Linked DNA regions of Homo sapiens: region 2 is linked to region 1. The links come from fine-mapping of genetic effects on gene expression. Tissue or cell type: whole blood. Region 1 holds a variant in brackets; the other region holds the start of a gene. All regions are shown on one strand. Distances are from middle to middle.

Evidence for each region. PIP is the estimated chance that this variant, and not a neighbour inherited with it, causes the effect.
Region 2: DYSF starts here. The variant in region 1 is fine-mapped to the expression of DYSF in whole blood (TOPMed, PIP 0.93).

What each region holds. Positions count from the first base shown.
Region 1 is chr2:71,517,549-71,527,462 of GRCh38, forward strand. It overlaps DYSF (dysferlin), which reads left to right. Exons shown (of 56, transcript NM_001130987.2): 11 at 2,630-2,660; 12 at 3,241-3,356; 13 at 8,672-8,798. Among named protein-coding and RNA genes, the nearest start is that of DYSF, 56 kb to the left of the region's middle. The variant T/C (reference allele first, on the strand shown) is at 5,530.
Region 2 is chr2:71,461,602-71,471,515 of GRCh38, forward strand. It overlaps DYSF (dysferlin), which reads left to right and starts at 5,098. Exons shown (of 56, transcript NM_001130987.2): 1 at 5,098-5,332. The coding sequence starts at 5,242.

The sequences.
Region 1 (9,914 bases):
GGGTGACCATCTATGTTAGCTAATTTGTTGTGTCCAGAAGACCAAACAAAAATCAAACTCATATTTTTATGACAGGAAGTAGTTTTACAACTTGGAGCAAGGTGCGCACGGGAGTTAGGCTCCTATCTTCCGACAGAAGCTGGGACACAGGGGAGCCGTCTCCCTTGGTGTTTATATTTCAGACGTCCTGAGAATGATATTTGTATACTAAAGCTGACAAAAGGCTTATTTAGTTTCTTAAAAAGATGCATTTCAAAGAGACAGGGAAAGTGTAATATATTTACAAGTTTTCTAAGGTAAGTGTTCTGACAAAAAGAGAGGGGAGGGAAGTACTTCTTCCCTTATTTCCAACAAGCAGAATCAAGACCCTTATTTGTAATTTGGATTTTCCCCCACCTCTGGGAAGGCCGTGTGAGATCTGAGTTTGGGCAGCCCTCCTCCTCATCCTGGCCATCTTGGGCCAGTGAGACCCAGCGCTCTCTGCCCTGACATCACTCTCACCCTGGGATGGGAGTGGGGTTCAGATATGGATCCCTGGGGGAGGGAGAGGCAGTGGAGAGAGGGGAACCCTGCCCCAGCCTCCTCACTTGTCCCAGACAGTCCAGAAGTGAATAGTCCTCTTCTGAGAACCGAGAGCCAATGGATTTAACAGATTACGTAAAGTAAAGGTAACTAGTAATTGCACAGACTAAAGGAGACCTGTATGATTTTTTTTTTTTTTTTTTTGAGATGGAGTCTTGCTCTGTCGCCCAGGCTGGAGTGCAGTGGTGTGATCTCAGCTCACTGCAACCTCTGCTTCCCAGATTCAAGTGATTCTCCTGCCTCAGCCTCCCCAGTAGCTGGGATTAGAGGCGTGTGCTACCACGCCTGGCAGTTTTTTTTTTTTTTTGGTATTTTTAGTACAGATGGGGTTTCACCATCTTGGTCAGTCTGGTCTTGAACTCCTGACCTTGTGATCTGGCTACCTTGGCCTCCCAAAGTGTTGGGATTACAGGCATGAGCCACCGTGCCTGGCCTGCATGGTGTTTTAATGTAATTTGATGTAATTGTTACTAATTTTCTCATTTTGAAATTTTCAAGGATTTCTCAAAAGGAAAGAAAGAGCACAAGCTTATTTTCCCCTCTCCCCTCTATCCAAGTATATCATGCCTTCCTTCTTTAAATTTGTATTTTAAATATGAATTTAAAATAAGGGGCTTGGTTCTGCCTGTTGTCAGAAGTTACCTTAGAATTATTTATTCTGCCCAATAAATAATTGCTGGGACCAGGCGCAGTGGCTCATGCCTGTGATCCCAGTGCTTTGGGAGGCCAAGGTGGGCAGATCACTTGAAGTCAGTAGTTCAAGACCAGTCTGGCCAACATGGTAAAACCCCGCCTCTACTAAAAATACAAAAATTAGCTGGGCATGGTGGTATGCGCCTGTAATCCCAGCTACTCAGGAGGCCGAGGCAGGAGAATCGCTTGAACCTGGGTGGCAGAGGTTGCAGTGAGCCAAGATCGCACCATTGCACTCCAGCCTGGATGACAGAGCGACACTCCATCTCAAAAAAAAAAAAAAAAAAAAAAAAAAAAAATTACTGGGTTGGACCTGATGGCTAGATCAGTGGGTGAGATTTCTTTGTCTTTGCGCTGTCTTCTCAAATCATTGCCTGTGGGAAGAAGTCACAAGATAAAAAACTAAGTCTGTTTACCTGGAGAAGCATTTTTTAAAAGAATGAGCTTGAGCCCAAGTCATTCTGTAACAAATTAAATCTTAATTATGTTTTGAGTCTTGTTCTGAGAACCCAAGGGTTAAGTCAAAAAATTATTTTACTTGTATCTAATTATAAAAGTAATCTATGATTTAAAAAAAAGACGACTTTTTAAAACAGACTGTTGTAGGTTCACAGCAAAAATTAAGTGGAATGTACACAGTTCCCATATACTCCCTGCCCCCTGCCCCTGCTGCCCCCTGCAGCCTTCCCCACTATCATCATCCCAATCATCTGTGGATTTTTAATAGAAAATTGTAAAACACAGGAAGGAATAAAAAATGAAATAAAAATAATCCAAATCTACCATGCAGGGATAACATAGTCCTATTGTGTTGAATTTCCTTTCCTCTTTTTTTTTTGAGACGGATTTTTGCTCTTGTTGCCAAGGCTGGATTGCAATGGCATGATCTCGGCTCACTGCAACCTCCAACTCCTGGGTTCAAGTGATTCTCTTGCCTCAGCTTCCCAAGTAGCTGGAATTACAGGCATGCACCACCACACCCGGCTAGTTTTTTTTTTTTTTTTTTTTTTTGTATTTTTAATAGAGATGGAGTTTCACCATGTTGGTCAGGCTGGTCTCGAACTCCTGACTTCAAGTGATCCACCTGCCTTGGCCTCCCAAAGTGCTGGGATTACAGGCATGAGCCACCACGCCCAGCCTCCTTTCCTCTTTCTTTTCTGTACATAAGCATTCTTTATCAAACTGGGATCAAAATATATTTCATTTTCTTTTCATGTAGTATCAAATGTTGACTGCCTGTGTTTCCAAATGTTCTTCAAAAACATGGTTTTTAATGGAATCATATAATGCACCACACTTTATTTAACGCTTTGGCGGCAAGAGTTTGATTTGTGTCTCCTCTCATTGATTGCAGATGGACGTGGGCACCATTTACAGAGAGCCCCGTGAGTTCTCACCACTTTGGCCGTATCCTTGCATTTTGGTTCTGGAGGCTGATTGGGGACACTCATTTGGGGTCCTCACTGTCCCTCCTGGGGGTTTTAGAATCTAGAGGAAGGGTTTGATCTTGGGAGAGAAAGCAGGTCATTCATCCTCCATGTGAGACAGGCCCTCGGGAGGGTGTAACACTCACCTGTGTCTCCGTTGGCCCATTCAGGGAGGCTAGATCTGAAAGGCCCCATTACTGGACACTGGGCTCACGGCAGACAGGGACAGGTCATTTGGGTGACAAGCCAGGATTTCTCCTCACCCTGGTTTCCATTCTGATCTGGTCACTTCCTGAAGGGGAGGAAAATGCCTTGGGTTTGGCTCTGCCAGCCTCTTACAGGCGTTTCTGTTAATATTTCTGACTCTGACCACATGAACACTCAAAGTACCTTTTGATTCTAGAATCTGAGTCCTGAGCTCATGGCCCAGCGGATGAGTCCTTTACCTCCCCTGTGCAGTCCATCCTGGGTTCCCGGATGTGGCCACAGCCTGGGGTCTTCTGATTCTGGGATCACCAGAGGATGTTGTCTCTCTTAGGGCACGCCTATCTCAGGAAGTGGCTGCTGCTCTCAGACCCTGATGACTTCTCTGCTGGGGCCAGAGGCTACCTGAAAACAAGCCTTTGTGTGCTGGGGCCTGGGGACGAAGCGCCTGTGAGTACATTTCCCTGGGTCTTCCTTACGGTCCCCCACGCGGCACTTGGTTGCGGAGGCACCAAACCACAAACAAAAACTCTATTTTTTTTTCTGATTTAAACTAATATGTGGTAATTAATGAGAAATGTGGAACATGTAGAAAGGTGTTAATAAAAAATGAATGCTCTGGGTGCAAGGTATTAATAAAAAATGAATCACTCATAATCCTACCACTCCGAGAGAGCTATTATTGTCTCATTGCACATCCCTCTGGAAGGATATATGCACATATTTTCTTTTTGCAACAGTGAGATTATTCTATATATATTATATTGTGACTTGAATTTCATGGCCTAAGAATGTATCATGCTCATCTCCACATGTCAGTAAGTAAAGTTATAAGTTGGAGGTGGTAAGAATGAGAAAAATGTTGAGAGCAGGAGAGGTATCTGCATCTTTCTATGTTTGAGAAGAGGAGAAAAGGTTTGGAATCATCTTTGTGGGAGAGGAGTGAGGGGTTAGATTTAATGAAAGGATTTCTGTACAAACACCAGAGCACCCACTCTGGGTTGGACGCTTTGTTTGTAGTGGAGCCACTTGCCTCATGGTGCTCAGCAGCGCAGAAGCAGAAGAGAGGCAGGTGGGTGGTGGACGTGTTGGGTGAGGGCAAGCCAGGAGTGCTGAAGGTCAGGGGTGAGGTGAAGGTCAGGGGTGAGGTACCTGAATATGGCTGATGGCTTTGTGCAGGGAGGGAGAGGAGGACAGGGCCCCTGGGGTCTCCTGCCATGCCTCGTGTCTCCCCCATCCTCACCACACACTGGCTCCTTGGCCACCTGGACGTGCTGCTTGGATGAATGTGGGTTTCTACTTCTCCACTTAGCTGGGCCCCGGGTGCTGTCCGCCTCTTCCTTTACCTGGGTATAGTTTACTCCTTATCTAATTCTCCTCATCTCCTTACTCCTTATCTCTCCTGGCTGTTCCCAGACTTTCTTCCCTTTCCTAAGCTCCAACCTCAGCTTCCCTTGGAGAGGCAGAGCTGCACAGCGATGAGTGGTGAGAGCTCTGGGAGCTCCTGTGGTCCTCAACTTGCCCCCCATCTTCATCCACCTTCCCTCCCTTCCTCCGCCCCTCCCGCTGCATTATCCCACCACCTCCTTGGCCATGACTTCACATCCTCCACTGTCTTCTTTAGCCTCCTCTTTCTGGTCTCTTCTCACACTTGTCTCCTCTGCCTCCTTCTCCATGATCTGTACCAGGCTCAAGATTTCCCCATCCTAAAACACCCCTTCCTTGACCCATTTCTCCCCACCCCTCCTCTCCACTACTATTTTCTCTCTCTCCTACTGCTGGTCATCACCAACTTTTGAAAGGGTGCACTGCATCCCCCTTTTTCCACTCCATTGCCAGCTGCTCATTCCTTCTCCTCTTCAGTAGGAATCCCACCACCTCCCCTCCCTGAAGCCACTGGTGTAAGGGTCACTCATTACCATAGCTTAGGAGCTCTCCTCTGTTGTTAGACTGCACCACTGCTCCATAGCGTTCGATTCTGGAGCCCACGCCTTATTTGAAACTGTCTCCTCCCTTAGTATTCATGACTCTCCTTGCTCCTTTTCCAGTGGGTTCTTCAAATTCGATGTTGCAGTTCAGTCCCTGTTCCCTTGCTGTGTCCTGCCCGTCACTGTTGAGGAGTCCGTCTCTTTCAGACACCACCTGAGACTTGTAAATTGCTCTTCTCCAGCCTGGATCTTCTGAGCTCTGGACGCTCAGTTTCAGTTGCCTTGTCATCAGGCCACATTAACATGTCCCTTAGGCCCCTCTAACTTATTATAGTAAATCTAACTTATTATAGCAAAGCCTGTATCATTTGCTGCCCACTCCCCACACCTGTTCCCCATCCCGTATTAGGTGACATCTTAGGAAATTGCATGATTATCCACTTAGTCCCCCAAACCAGAGGCCAGAGTTTCATTCTTTACCCCTCAATCCCCATGCAAGCAGTTGGCCAGTCTTGTTGGTGGAAAACCTCAGTGTACGCCTCTTCTTTTTCCCATCCCAAGACAGGAGTTTGAGGTCCAGCTCCCACTCTCTCTCACTTGGGTCTCTTTGTGAATTACAATATAGGTTCAGCTGGTGTAACAAAGATGCCCCAAATAATAGGCATTAAGGAGGACAGAGGTTTATTTCTCTCTCA[T/C]GAATGCCACAGTCCAGAATTGGCACAGTGCTTCGGCAATGATCAGAGACCCAGGCTCCTGGTCTTTTCTCCACTGTGATCATCATGCAGCCTCCGTCACATGGCCCAAGATGGTTGCTCCAGTTCCCATCACCATGTCTGTATTCCAGCCAGGGAAATGGGAGTAAAGGACAATGGAGGCCACATCTCTTCCTTCAAAGGCATGATCCAGAAGTTGTACACATTTATGCTTAGGTCCCATTGACAAGAACTTAGTCACATGGCCACATCTAACTACGAGGGAGCCTGGGAAATAAAGTCCATCCTAATGCTGTCCAGCTAAAAATTGAGGGTTTGTTAGGGGAGGCAGAAAAGACTGGATTTGGGGGAACAACTAGCAGTCTCTGCCATCCATCCTAAGTGTCCTCTGAGGTCTCCTAACTTCTTACGTTATACTTCACCTATCCCCACCTTATCACCAGTCATCTTTTTTTTTTTTTTTTTTTTTGAGAAAGAATCTTGCTCTGTCACCCAGGCTGGAGTGCCATGGTGCAATCTCGGCTCACTGCAACCTCCGCCTCCCGAGTTCAAGTGATTCTCCTGCCTCAGCCTCCTGAGTAGCTGGGATTACAAGCGTGCGCCACCATATCCAGCTAATTTTTGTATTTTTAGTAGAGACGGGGTTTCACCATGTTGGTCAGGCTGGTCTCAAACTCCTGACCTTGTGATCCACTCGCCTCGGCCTCCCAAAGTGCTGAAATTACAGGCGTGAGCCACTGCGCCTGGCCGCCAGTCATCACTTTTAAACCCAGGTAGAATCACGCGTGTCTCCTCTTACAAAACCTCCAGTGACTTCCCACTGCTTTTAGGATAGAGTCCAAGATCCTTAGCATGACATTCAAGGCCCTTGACATTTGCCCTCAGCCTAGTTTCCCAATCCCACTTGCTGTTATGTATCTTCATGGGCCCCGTCTGTGGCCACACCAGATGATGTGACTCTTTCCAGAATGCTCTTCCATCCCTCTCTAGCCTTTTCCCCTGCTGGAATGCCTTCCCTCTCTTTGCCTACCAAGAGCCAATTTGTTCTTCCAGACCCAGTTCAGATGCTACTTCCTCCCTGAAGCTTGCCTCGTCTTCCAGGAAAATGTATTGGTCTTTCCTTTGGGCCACCACCCAGCCCTTTGGTAGTCTAATCAGTTTATGTGTCTGTCTTCATCACTGAGATTCAGTTTCTTGATGATGGGGACAATATAGCAAATGTGATATCTTTTATCTCCCCTCTTGCCTAGTACGGCAGGTCTTGTACACAGTAGGTGCTCAGTCAGTGCTTATTGTCTAGGGGAATAGACATTTTTATGGATGCCTGAAAGATGATTGTTTTCTTCTGATATGAGCTGAGGAGAATAAACGCAGAACACATCCCTTTGGGCATGCTGTGATATGGGCATTCTGGGATTGAGGGTTTTGCAGCAAGGATCCTGAAGCAGGTTTCTACGTGTCAAGTGTGACTGAGTGAGAAATGGGGTGAGGCTAGTCCAGGCAACTGTCCAAGGAGTTGGCTGCTGGGCACAGCCTGACCTTGCTATTCTCCTGTCCCTTCGCTGCTCGCTAGCCCAAGAGCAGCCACCAGATCTTTTGTCTGTTCCTCCAGCTGCCGACTTCCCCATGTGCAAGGGCCTCTGCATGAGTTGCCTCCTCGTCTGGATGCCTCCACCTGTTGCTCATCATCCAGGTCTCAAGCTGGGAAGCATTTCTGACCCCACCTCAGTATAGTTACAAGCCCCCTTGCTCTGTGCTCTCCAAGCACGTGGGTTCTGCTTCCAGCCTGTGTTACACCTCAGCTTTCTTATCTGTAAAGTGGGGGCATTCTAGGTCTTACACCCAGAGCAACATCTGTGGGCAAGCAGCGTGGGCATCACTTGGACACTTTTTGAAATGCAGAATCTTGGGCCCCACCCCACACCTGCTGAACTAGAACCTGCATTTTAATTGGAATGCACAGCAGTGGTCTAGAAGACATTGATTCTCAGCCTCTGTTGCTAGTTGGAATCATCTGGGAAGCTTTACAAGCCACTGCTGCATGGGTACTCTCTCCCAGAAATTCTGTTTTAATTGGTCTAGGGTGTGACCTGGGTTTCCCAGGTGAGTCTTTTCTTTTCCTTTTTTGTTTTTGAGATGGTGGGGGCGGGGGGCGGTCTCACTTTGTTGCCCAGGCTGGAGTGCAGTGGTGCAATCTTGGCTCACTGCAACCTCTGCTTCCCAGGTTCAAGCAATTCTCCCATCTCAGCCTCTGAGTAGCTGGGACTACAGGTGCATGCCACCATGCCTGGCTAATTTTTGTATTATTTGGTAGAGACAGGGTTTCCCCATGTTAGCGAGCTGGTCTTGAACTCCTGACCTCAGGTGATCCGCCTGCCTCGGCCTCCCAGAGTGCTAGGATTACAGGTGCGAGCCACGGCGCCCAGGCTTCCCCAGGTGTTTCTAATGTGCCGCCAAGTTTGAGACCCATTCAAGGGAGGGGTGCTATGAGGATTAAATGAGAGAGTGCATACACATCAATGCATGTGGGATGTGATTTTTGTTATTACTGTTCCAACCACAAGACACAGTACATGTTATTGGATTCGTTTGCTGAAAGTGTTTTCCCTGCATGATAGTCAGCTCCATGGGAACAGGGTGCTTATTCATGTCATCCCCTTATTCATTGCCATATCCCCTGCCCTTCAGCACCATACAGACACCTAGTACTCACTCAGTAGCTAATGGCTGGGTGAATGAACACCTGCATGTTATTAAAGACAGAGTGGCCAGCTTAGACCTCAGTTACTACTGTACTATGTTTTAACCGGGAGGTGGGGGAGAGCGGGAAGGAGACTGAGGTTGGTGGAATGCTTGCTGTGTGCCACGTGCATTTACATCATTACTGGAGATGTTCCTCGCACAGTCCTGGAAGGTCAGTATCATGGTCTCTGCTGTACTCAAGAGGAAGCTGAGGCTCAGGTGAAGGACCTTGCCCGAGACCACGCGGTAGTAAGTGTCGGAGCGCAGTCTGCCTTACTGCAGAATGCAGCATTTATGTGGCGAAGCTGGAACTCTTAGAAAAGGAAAGTAAAACCCTGTGCTCAGGAGCGCATGAAGGAATCGTATTTGGTTTTCTTTGTAGCTGGAGAGAAAAGACCCCTCTGAAGACAAGGAGGACATTGAAAGCAACCTGCTCCGGCCCACAGGCGTAGCCCTGCGAGGAGCCCACTTCTGCCTGAAGGTCTTCCGGGCCGAGGACTTGCCGCAGAGTGCGTGGGGCGCGCCCTTGGGTGGGAGGTCTGCAGGAGGCTGGAGGCGCAGGGCTGGTGGGGGTGGGCGATGGCGGGCGGGGTCAGCTCCCTGGGGGAAGGAGAGGCGTCTAGGAAAACAATCAGAATTTAACGAAAAGTAATCAGTGCTGGTGGAGTTACAAAGATTCAAGAACTCTTGAGAGTAATAGCTGCCTCTCAGCTCCATTCCAATGTCCTCTGGGCCTGGTCTGGCAATATTTGGCCACTCTGTGGACCCATTTTCTTAGTTCTCATTGAGAAGTCAGCACCATCTGGACTCTATTCTGGCCTTAGGGCTGGCTCTCACTGATTTTCCCTCCCTCTGTGAGGAAGCCCGTCCTGCTAGTGGCAGAGCTGGGCTGGGGAGCAGTTGCTCTAATGTTGGAAGGGTTTGCATGAAGGACTCCTGGGCCCCACTGTCTTCACAGATGAAGGACACAGATCCACAAGGTGACCCACCATCCTAGCTTGCCTGAGACTGTCCTGGTTTTAGCACTGAAAGTGCCTGTTCCAGGAAACCCTGCAGTCTCCAGCAAACTGGGACAGTGGGCACCCGACTTGCAACCATCTCTTCCTCCCAGGAAGGCCAATGTGGCCACTGCCTGGTTTCTCACAGTGGTTGGCCCGATACTAGACCCATCTGTGTGTTTAGTAAATGCTGGGGAGTTATACCGAATATTCTAGAGCTCTGGTTATCAACCTGGGCTGATAGTAGAATTCCCTGGGAAGATTCAAAACGGTCCAAATGCCGGGGCCCCACCTCCAGCGTTTTAGATTGACTCGAGTTAGGGCAGGGCTCAGCATTGGTAGGGTTTAAAGGCTCCCCAGGTTGTTCTGTGGTGAGGCCCCGCTGTGAGCCACTATTTTAAAGCATGCATTAACACAACCAAGCCACTGTCCACAGCAGAGTCAGTGAGAAGGTTTGCAACTTGGGTCCCTGGTTACAACTTTTCCATAAAGGTAACTATTTGAGAGTTTCTGCTTCGGCTGCTGACGTCAAGAAATGAAATGTACAAGCTTACTTAGATCAAATCCTGAAGAAAGCCTGTAAATAAGTAATGGGTATTAATTCAGTACTAAAACACATGCTTAAAA
Region 2 (9,914 bases), 56 kb before region 1:
ATCATATTTAAGATCACCTGGCTGCAGTGTGGATAATGGGTCAGACATAGCCAGAGTGATGATGTGATGAGGCGACTGACCAGCTAGGAGGCACCTGCAGTGGCCTGGGCAGGAGAGGGTGGTGGTAAGACTTGGTGGAGTCACTTGGATGCTGTGGGCACACAGATGGTACCAAAGTCACAGGGGTCAGTAAGGATGATTTAGGCTGCAAGCAACTGAAATCCTGGCTTAAATAGACTTAAATGAGCAGAGAGGCAAGGTTTGTTTGCCTCCTGGACACCCCATGTTTAAGCCTTGGGAAAATCAATTTATTAAATGCTAAGTAGTCTTAAGGGGATCAGCTCACTTAACTGGTGTCCAGAGACCCAGTGAGCTCTGGGCATATAGACTATACAACTCTGTCACAGGATCCTAAGGGTGTTGCTTTTTCCAGCTGGAAACCTCTGTGGCTGGTAGCACCTTTGCCTGAATTTTGCTTGGGCCCACTGGGCTCCTTCTGCCCACTCAGCCTGGCAGGCTGTGCTCAGCTCTCAGTACCAGCCCTGATCCCACGCCTGCGAAGGGCGAGCCAGGCACTGAACAGCAAGGGGTGTGTGAGTGAGTGCAGGGTCCAGCCACTGCGCACAGCCAGGCATGCCAGCTGTGGTGGGGCAGGCAGCTCCAGGTGCTGGTACAGGCACTGGCTCTGTGCCAGGCTGCGGCTGGGCCAGGCATACTGGAAGGGGCTTCCACTGTGGCTACTGGGGAATGTGGTGGTGCCCAGAAGCTTGGAGGCACCAGGAACTGCAGAGCCCCAAAGAGGGTGTCACAGCCATGTCACCCCTAGGTCTGGGCTCCCCAAAGTGCTGAAGCTTTATCTCGTTCTCGTTGCCTGCAACATGGCGAGCAGGGTTGGGGTGGGGGGCAGGCTGTTTCAGCCTTGTTTGTCTTACAGCTCTTTCAGTCCTGCTGTTCAGTGGGTCCTGGGTCCTTGTCCTATGTCCAGGAAGAATAGGTACACAGACAACTGGATGGTGAGCAAGGTGGAGAGAGCTTCACTGAGTGACAGAACAGCTCTCAGGAAACCCGAAGTGGGTAGTTCCTTTCTGCAGGCAGGTCCTCCTGATAAGTGTCTAGCTTTCAGCAGAGAGGAGACCCACATAGGGTAGCTCGTCACCGCAGGCAGGTCTTCCCGACAAGTGGAGGAGACCTGACCTGGAGTGGGTAGTTCCTTCCTGTACCTGGTAGTCCCAACATCTGTCTGAGTCTAGCTGAGTCCTGGGATTTTATGGGCTCAGAAGGGAGGAAGTGTGTGCTGTTTGGTCCATGGGTGACCAGGAGCAGGCTGGGGGAAAAAGCACCATAAGTTCTCACTCTGGGCTGAGGACTCCACCTGGAACTGGCAGCCCAGCCCCCAGGCTTCAGGCCATCCCTGGCTTGTAGGTGGGGTTTCACTGAGGACCCACCCCTTTCTGCCCAGGAGCCTGTCTGCCTCCTGCTGCCATCAACATGTCGTCTAGGGCACCTAGGCTGTTCATGCAGAGGGGTGCTTGCAGTTCCAGGTGGAGCTACCCCTCAGCTTCCCTCCTGAGCTTGTCAGTGCTCAAAGTCTGGAGGGGGTTGAGGCAGCAGGGGGCTGGCATCTCAGTGCCACCACAAGTGTGCACACATCTGGCTGGGTTGCAACAGCATGTGGGCTTGGACACAACTTTGCTCCACCCTGGAGTGGGTGACTGGAGTTGGGAGAGGCCAGAGATGGGGCGAAGGCACTTCTGAGCCTGCAAGCTTCCTGGGCCCCAGAGAGTGCAGGGATGCCTGGATCTGGGGCCGCAGCCAAACGGCTGCAGCTGTGCCTGGGAGCTTGGGGCTCCCACCCCACCAACTTGGTAGGGGGCGGGGCTCCCACCTGTTCCCAGCCCCCACCGGCTCTGCAGAGTGCACAACACTGGCCAGACTCTCCACTGCAGCCCACGTCTTGGCAGTGGCCACTCCAGATGGGCCGCTGCTGCCAGCAACTCCATAGTATCATCCTGTACCCAGGCAGGCTCCATGTTTCTCTCTGATCTGCTGTCCATGATGTCTGCTATGTCCTCAACTGGTCAGCAATTGGATCTGCAAGCTTCCTTATGCACACAAAGCAGGAGAGGGAGTTGGGCTTCTCTATTCATGGCATATAAATCTGTCTTTCCAGGGGAACAACTTAGGACACATACCTCTAGCTAGACCAATAGCCGTTGCCAAGAAATATGCTCAGATAGAGTGGGATCCATCCTGGAGCTGGGGCTGCATAACTGAGCAGTCAGGTTCTGCTAGAAGGGAAGGGGGTCTGGATGGATGTTGAGGGAATCAAATGTCCGCCTCATCTTGAGGGGAGAAGAGAAGGGTAGAGCTGGGAGGAAGCAGCAAGGGTCCAAGCAGCTAGAGAAGGCGTTGTGATGAGAACAGGCTCAGACTCTCCTCTCTTTCCTTTTCCCCACCCCCATGCTCATCCTAGCTCTGTCCTTTACCGACCTTCCACTTCTTGGGAGCTGTAGATGTGGTTGCCACCCTCTGTGGTCTCTACCCCTTGACTGGAAGCTCCCTGAGGGCAGGGATGTGACTTATTCCCAGCAAGTCAGAGGTGATGGGTGAATGTTTATTCTTTCAGTCCATCATTTAGAAAGAATTTATGGAGACCATGCTTTGCACCAGGTGCTGTTTCAGGCACTGAGGAAACAGCAGTGGACAAAACAGACAAAAACCCCTGGCTCCTTGGAGCAGACATTCTGATGGGGAAGACAGAAAACAATTAAGACACATGTGCTATACAGTGATTGGTGCTAGAGAAGAAGCCTGAAAGGGAGATGAAAGAGGGAAAGTTGTGGTGTTCAGTTGTGTGGCCGGGTTGGTCTCACTGGAGTTGATATCTGAAGGAAAGGAAGACATGCCAGCCAGAGGGAACAGCTGACAGAGACCCTGGGGAGGCGCTGGTCTGGCCTGTCTGGGGAACAGCTGGAAGGCTAGCATGGGTCCTGGGGAGGTCAGAGAGGTCAGCCAGGGCTTTCAAGGTCACGTAAGGGGAGAGTGGCTGGAGAGGAGGTCAGCGAGGTCAGCCAGGGCTTTCAAGGTCACGTAAGGCCTTTGAGTTTTGCACTGAGTGAGATGGGAGCCAACGGAAGACTTTGAGTAGAACCAGGTCATGAGAATTGAATTGAGGATAGACCATGGGGACAAGGGCAGAGCAGGAGACGCATTGGGAGTCCATGGAGTCGATTAAATGACTCAGGCAAGGGATGACAGGCTTCCACTGGGGGCAGTTACAATGGAGATGGTGAGATATGGTGGGATTTTGGACATATTTTGAAGGAGAGTGGGAGGGGGATTTGCAGTTTTGGTGACCTGGTGGGGTTGAAGGTGTCACTGGGTGGGTTCAAGAGAGAATGGAGGAGGGAGATTGGAGACAGAAAGTATGGAGAGCTCCTTCAAAGGGCATTGTTGTGAAAAGGGAGAAATGACCAGTAGCTGAAGGGGATGTGGGGTCAACGGTGTGCTTTCTTGAGAGCAATAACATCATGCTTGTGTGCCGATGGGATGATCCGGTAAACAGGGGAACTTGGTAAGGCAAGAGAGTGAGAGAATCACTGCAGGCTCACCACTGAATGGGCGAGAGGGGATGGGGTCTATGCCCAAGTGTCCAGTTGTTACCAGTGGGGAGTACGGGTGATTCATTTGTAGGAACAGGAGAGAACTCACAGGATTTGGGCACAGATGCCGAGGGCGGGCGTTAGAAGGAGACTGGGGACCTGAAGAAGTTCTCTGCTCCGTAAAGAGGAAGCAAACTGAGAGTGAGGTTGGGCGATGGGGTGTCCTAGGGGCATCCGGGAGACAGGGAGACAAGACATATAGTATGATTGCCCCCAGCAGTGAGGGCTCGCTTGAGTTAAGGGTCATGACTACAAAAGGCACCACTCAGGCCGGCTGTGTTACTCTCCAACACAGCACTGGTTGGGGGCAGGTGTGGAGGAGGCGGAGTTGGATTCGCCAGGGTTATGGCTTAGCCCTGTGAGAATGCTGTATCCCTCAAAATAAGAGAGGGGAAAGGGAGTTGAGATTTTGCGCAGCAGTGCGTTTAGGCTGAGTGAGCAGGTTGGTTAGTGAGGACTTGGGCGGTGGGAAGACGGACAGTGCCCTGACAGGGGCTAGGTGCTGGAGTGCTGGGGGATAGAAGTGCGAAGCCAGGGCCCCTGTGTCAAGAAGTTCATACGCTGGAAAGGAACCAGACATAATAAGCGAAACGACTGTCACCGTTCATGGCTTACACCTTGAACAGCTTTCCACTGTGGAGACTAGGGAGTGTAGAGATTGTTGGGGATGGGGGACTTGCAGGGGACAGAATGGGCCGCAGCTGGACCCTAGTTCTCCAGGGAACGCAGTATGATTTGAATACAGATCTCTGCCTCCAGAGATGAGTGACTCGACACCGCTGCGGAGAAGGCTCCGAGGAGGGTTGGTGGGGACTCGAACCTCGGAGTCTCTCCCGACCCGGGGGTCCCAGCAAACCAGAACGGCCACCTAGACAGCCTGCGGACGGGAGAGGACCGGCTCCCTGGCGCAGATCATGGGGCAGGTGGAGAGAGGCGAGAGGCAATGAGGCGGGGGGCTCGGGGTGCACGGCACGCTCCGCACACTCCCCCTTCAGCGCTCACTCAGACTTGGTTTCCCCGAAGACACACTCTCGTCCCCGCCGCTGATTGCCCACTCCTTCCGCCTGCACTCCTGCCTCCTTCTCACCCTTTCGTCGAGCGCACAGGGCGGCTGCCAAGTCGGCACCGGTGCGCACCGGGCCCGGGATCCCTGGCTGGTGTGGAGCCTTGGTCACCGGAGGCCCCCGCGGAGCAGGCCCCACGGCGCCTTGTGCGCTCTCGGAGGCCGAGCTGCGCGCCCGCGTCAGCGGCGCCTCGTTCCTGGCCGGGAGCTGGGACCCGCGGAGCTAGGGACCAGCACCCCCACAGGCGCCCGTCTGACCCCTGTCCCTCCCCGCCCGCCGCGGGCAGGGCGGATCTGGGTAGGGGCCGGAGGGGGAGGGTCCGCCCAGCGGGTGTCCGGTGTCCTCCCTGCAGCCTCTCCCAGGCATTGGTCACTTCTCCGCGGAGGAGCAGCGAAGGCGACAGCTCTCTTGGCGCGGCTGCCTGGGAGCCGGGCGCTTGCTGGGTGGGTGCTCGGGCCCGGTGCTCCCGCTCCCGCCCTGACTGCGCGCCTGTGTGCCGCCGGGGCTGCCCAGCCATGCTGTGCTGCCTGCTGGTGAGGGCCAGCAACCTCCCCAGTGCGAAGAAGGACCGGCGCAGCGACCCTGTCGCAAGCCTGACTTTCCGAGGTGAGAGCCCCGTGGCTGCCGCGCCCATGCTCGGGTGCTACCCGACTCTCGGCGCTCACTGGCGGGTCTGAAGCCCCTGCTCCGGAGCTAACCCTAGTCCAGGCCACAGTTTCTCCCTTTGTCAGCAGGGACGGAAATCCCAGCCCCGACTTCTGCAGGGGGGCGATGAGGAATAAGCAGAGCACAATAAATGCCACAGGGCTTTGAAAAATTGGAAAAGCGAAAGTGCCGTAGGTCAGCGGTTATCACTTTTCTAAGACTGACACCCAGAGGAAATAAAGTCCGAGCTTTTACTGGGTAGTGGGGATAAGGGTAAGTTGGAAGATGGGTGCAGAAGGTAGAGAGGAATCAGGGCCTCTGAAAAACGGGGCGTGTAGATGATGTGCTTTGAAAGTTGTGTCTTTTTTCATTCATTCATTCATTCATTCACCCATCTTTATCCAACATTGGCTGTATTGAATCTGCCCCGTCTTAATCAGTAGGAAAAGGAACAGAATAGGATGGAAATGGCCTTGACACAAGGAGTTTTGAGGAATGTCAAGGATATTTTCTCTAAATTCAAGAAGCTAAGTCCCTACATGTAGTGCTTAGAATACATACAGGTATTTCTGTGTGGGGCAGCAGAGAAATCACACACACACTCCTCTTCTCACCAGGCGTCCTGAACCCCCTCCCCCAACCCCTCCAAGGCAGATTCCCACTGGAGCGGGTGTCTCAGGAGGGGAAAGGGAAGAGGAAGGATCTGTCAAAATTAAGAGAAGGAACAATAGCTGTGAGTCAGGACCCCAGTTCTGCAGAGAAAGATAAATCAGGAGAGGAAAGAGGGTTTCCACTTAGCCAGGAGCCATACCCTGTAGCTTTGTGGAATCGATAATAATAATAATAAAAATCTACGTATCAGAAAAGATAGTCAAATGAAGAAGGAAGAGTAGCTGGTGTTTTCATAAGCCTCCTTCAGTGCAGGCACCAAGGGAACTCTTTTCAGTCTGACCCATGATCTGAATCATATCTCCAAGCACCCCCAAGATAATGATAGATGAAAGACATGATTTGGCAAAGGGAGATTTATGTGTAGCTTTTATTCTTTGCTGTGGGACAAGTTATATGTATTCCTCTTTTGAAAGATGTGATTTGAAACGTTTAAGAAAATTTCACTATTTTCATTGATTGGTGACATGCCTGGGAGTTCACTATGCAAGAGCAACTTCAAGACAAAGTCTTTCCTTCTCCAGTGTCCACCTGATGCTGCCTAAGGCTTTGCTATGCAGAAATTGCGGTGTCACCATTGGCTGGAAAAGAAATTCCCTAAGGACACTGGGCAGGGCACACATTAGCATAGGGCTCTGGATGCTCTAACACTCGTTTGGGTCTGCTCACAGCTCTTTCCCTTGTCCTGTAACAGTCCTGTGGTGGCTACCAATGTCTCCATTCTGCAAATAAGGAAATTGAAACCCAGGGAAGTTAAATGTGTTCAGGTCAGTGGTCATGGCAGGGAGCTACCAGCGCTTGGAGTGGGTATTGCCCTTGAGTCGGGAAGATGACCAAATCCCTTGAGGCCCCTCTTTACTATTGCCCTCGCCCAAGTACCCCGAACACGTGCAGCTGCTATCTCCCCCCAGATCTCTGTATTCCTTCTTTGTAATGCCTTACTATTTATTTGCACTGATGATCTCCTCGGAAAACAGAAATACCATACAATAGAATGTAACATCTCCAACCGTTTCAAGTCTATTTGTATTTCAAAGCCCAGGGCAATGCCACCTTCTCCAGGAGGACACCCTGGATCCCCCTGGCTCTCAAGAGTCTCTCCTCTCTGGATGACAAGCAGCAGCACCTTGCTAGGGATGCTAGCACCCTCGCCCTGACTGGCCTGTGCTCAGCTCCATGCTTAGGTGCCTTGAGAGCAGTGACCTGTCCTATTTGTTCATTGGTTTGTCCCAGTGCTGAGCACAAGTAGGTGCTCTCTAGTGTTTGTGCGCTTTCTGGCCCAGCCTCTAGCCATCCTCCAGGTGTGCCTGGGAGCTTCATTTAGTCTGGGACATGGTCCGCTCACTTGATTGTTCCTGAGAATCACTTGTAGAACGTGTTTGAGAAACAGATTCCAGAGTCCCCATCTGTAGAGGTTCCGATGCAGCAGGTCTGGAAGGTGACCTAAGAATCAGCACTTAACAAATACCCGATGCAGGTTATTTTGGAACCGCATCTTGGGAAAAATGGGTCTGAGATGTGATGGCAGGTGAAATTAATGCGCTCCCCATTGCGGGAGCATTCACTGGGGAGTTTGGGGCTGAGTTGATGCCTAAGGAGGGAAACCGTTAGAACCAGGTTCAGAACTTACAGAGCATGTAGGCTGGGGGGACTCAACTCTGGCTGCAGGTCAACATTGTGTGTGGGAGCTTCACCAAAGACCACTGCCAACCTCCCTGCCTGCCTTTTCTGAAGCCAGATCCCTTCCGGTGGGGCCCCAGGCATAGGTGTTGTTTCTGTCAAATTTCCAGGTGTTTTGAATGTGCAGTCAGGGTTGAGAACCACTGAGCCCAGCTCCTCATGGCACAGATGGGACAGTGGCCTGCTTGCAGAGAAGCCAGCCTGCACTGTGTGTTTGGCTCCTACAGGCAGCCTGAAATGTATGGGGCTGGGCTGGCCCCACTTTCCTTGCAGTTGTTCCCTGTCTCGGATGTAATTTCAGGACCTGCCTCCCAAAATAGACTATGAGCTCTGGGAGGCTGGACTCTGAGGGCAATTTTTTGGCTTCCCTGTCTAAGCACCTCTATTAATAGTAGAGGCTACTAATGAATACTTCTCATTCTTTTGTTTTTCTATTAATTAATTCATTAACTAAAACTACCATGAGTAACTGGGCCATAGTAGATATTTTTGACTGATTGTGTCAACGAGCAGCTTAATTTCCTATAGCATTTAATTGTCTGTACTTCTTTTCTGCCCTGCCCATTTTCCATTCCTTAATGTGATTATTTATATCCCTCTATTCATGCAGTTAGTTCATTGAACAAATATTTACTGAGTACCTACTACGTGCCTGGTGCTTTTCTAGGTGCTTGGATGCATACAAGAACAAAACCAGATCCCTACTGCTTTAAAGCTGAAACATCTTATTTCCTTGAAGGCCAGATCTGCTGCGTCCCCACTTGGTGAATTTCTGCCCTGTGTCATCAGCCAGGAACCCAGAAGTCATTACTGACACTTCCCTCTCTCTCATCCTGTCAGGGCGTCTCCTCCTCCAGCCTCCCCCTCCCACCTCTTCTCTTCTTGATCTCCTGGGGGTCTCTAGATTTGGGGCAGGAGTTGGGGGATCTTATAGAACTAGTTGGAGGTGGATTCCTGTCGTCAGGGAACACTCTTAACTCACCTATGTAGGGAAAGTGGGCTGAAGGCCCCGGACTCTCTGAACCTAGCTGTTTACATATTACAAATGACTTAAAATATTGAAAACAGCGGCCAGGCGTGGTGGCTCACGCCTGTAATCCCAGCAATTTGGGAGGCCAAGGCGGGTGGATCATGAGGTCAGGAGATCGAGACAATCCTGGCTAACATGGTGAAACCCTGTCTCTACTAAAAATACAAAAAAAATTAGCCGGGTGTGGTGGTGGGTGCCTGTAGTCCCAGCTACTCGGGAGGCTGAGGCAGGAGAATGGCATGAACCCAGGAGACGGAGGTTGCAGTGAGCCAAGATTGAGCCACTGCACTCCAGCCTGGGTGACAGAGTGAGACTCCATCTCAAAAAAAAAAAAAAAAAAAAGAAAAGAGCTTTCTCTTCTCTTCCTTCTTTCCTTCCTTCCTTCTTTCCTTCCTTCCTTCCTTCCTTCCTTCCTTCCTTCCTTCCTTCCTTCATTCCTTCCTTCTTTTTTTTTTTTGAAATGGACTTTCACTCTTATTACCCAGGCTGGAGTGCAATGGCACGTTGTCGGCTCATTGCAACCGCCGCCTCCCAGGTTCGAGTGATTCTCCTGCCTCAGCCTCCCGAGTAGCTGGGATTACAGGCACCTGCAACCATGCCTGGCTAATTTTTATTTTTATTTTTAGTAGAGATGGGGTTTCACCATGTTGCCCAGGCTGGTCTCAAACTCCTGACATCAGTCAATCCACCCACCTTGGCCTCCCAAAGTGCTTGGATTACAGGTGTCAGCCACCCCGCCTAGCCTGTTTTCTTTTTATAAACATAATATGTACTTGCTGTTAAAAATGACAAACTACAGAAAGGCCATGAGGCAAGAGTAAAAAATAGCCCCAAATCCTGCCACTTTGAATTAACTTGTTAACAATTTGACACATTTCCTCCAAGATTTTTTTTCTTAAAAATTTTAGTTATAAAATTTAACATACAAGGAAAGTGCAGAAGATATAAATATATGATTTAATACAGTAGTTCTCAACTGGGGGCAGTTTTTTCCTCAGATGACATTTGCCAATGTCTGGAGACATTTTGGGTTGTTGCCACAGGGGTTGGGGGCACAGGGTGTTTATCTACAGGGTAGAGGCTGAGGATGCTGCTAGACATTCCACAGTGCAAGGGGAGGTCCCCCACACCAACCACAGAGTGATTCAGCCCACATAGTAATCA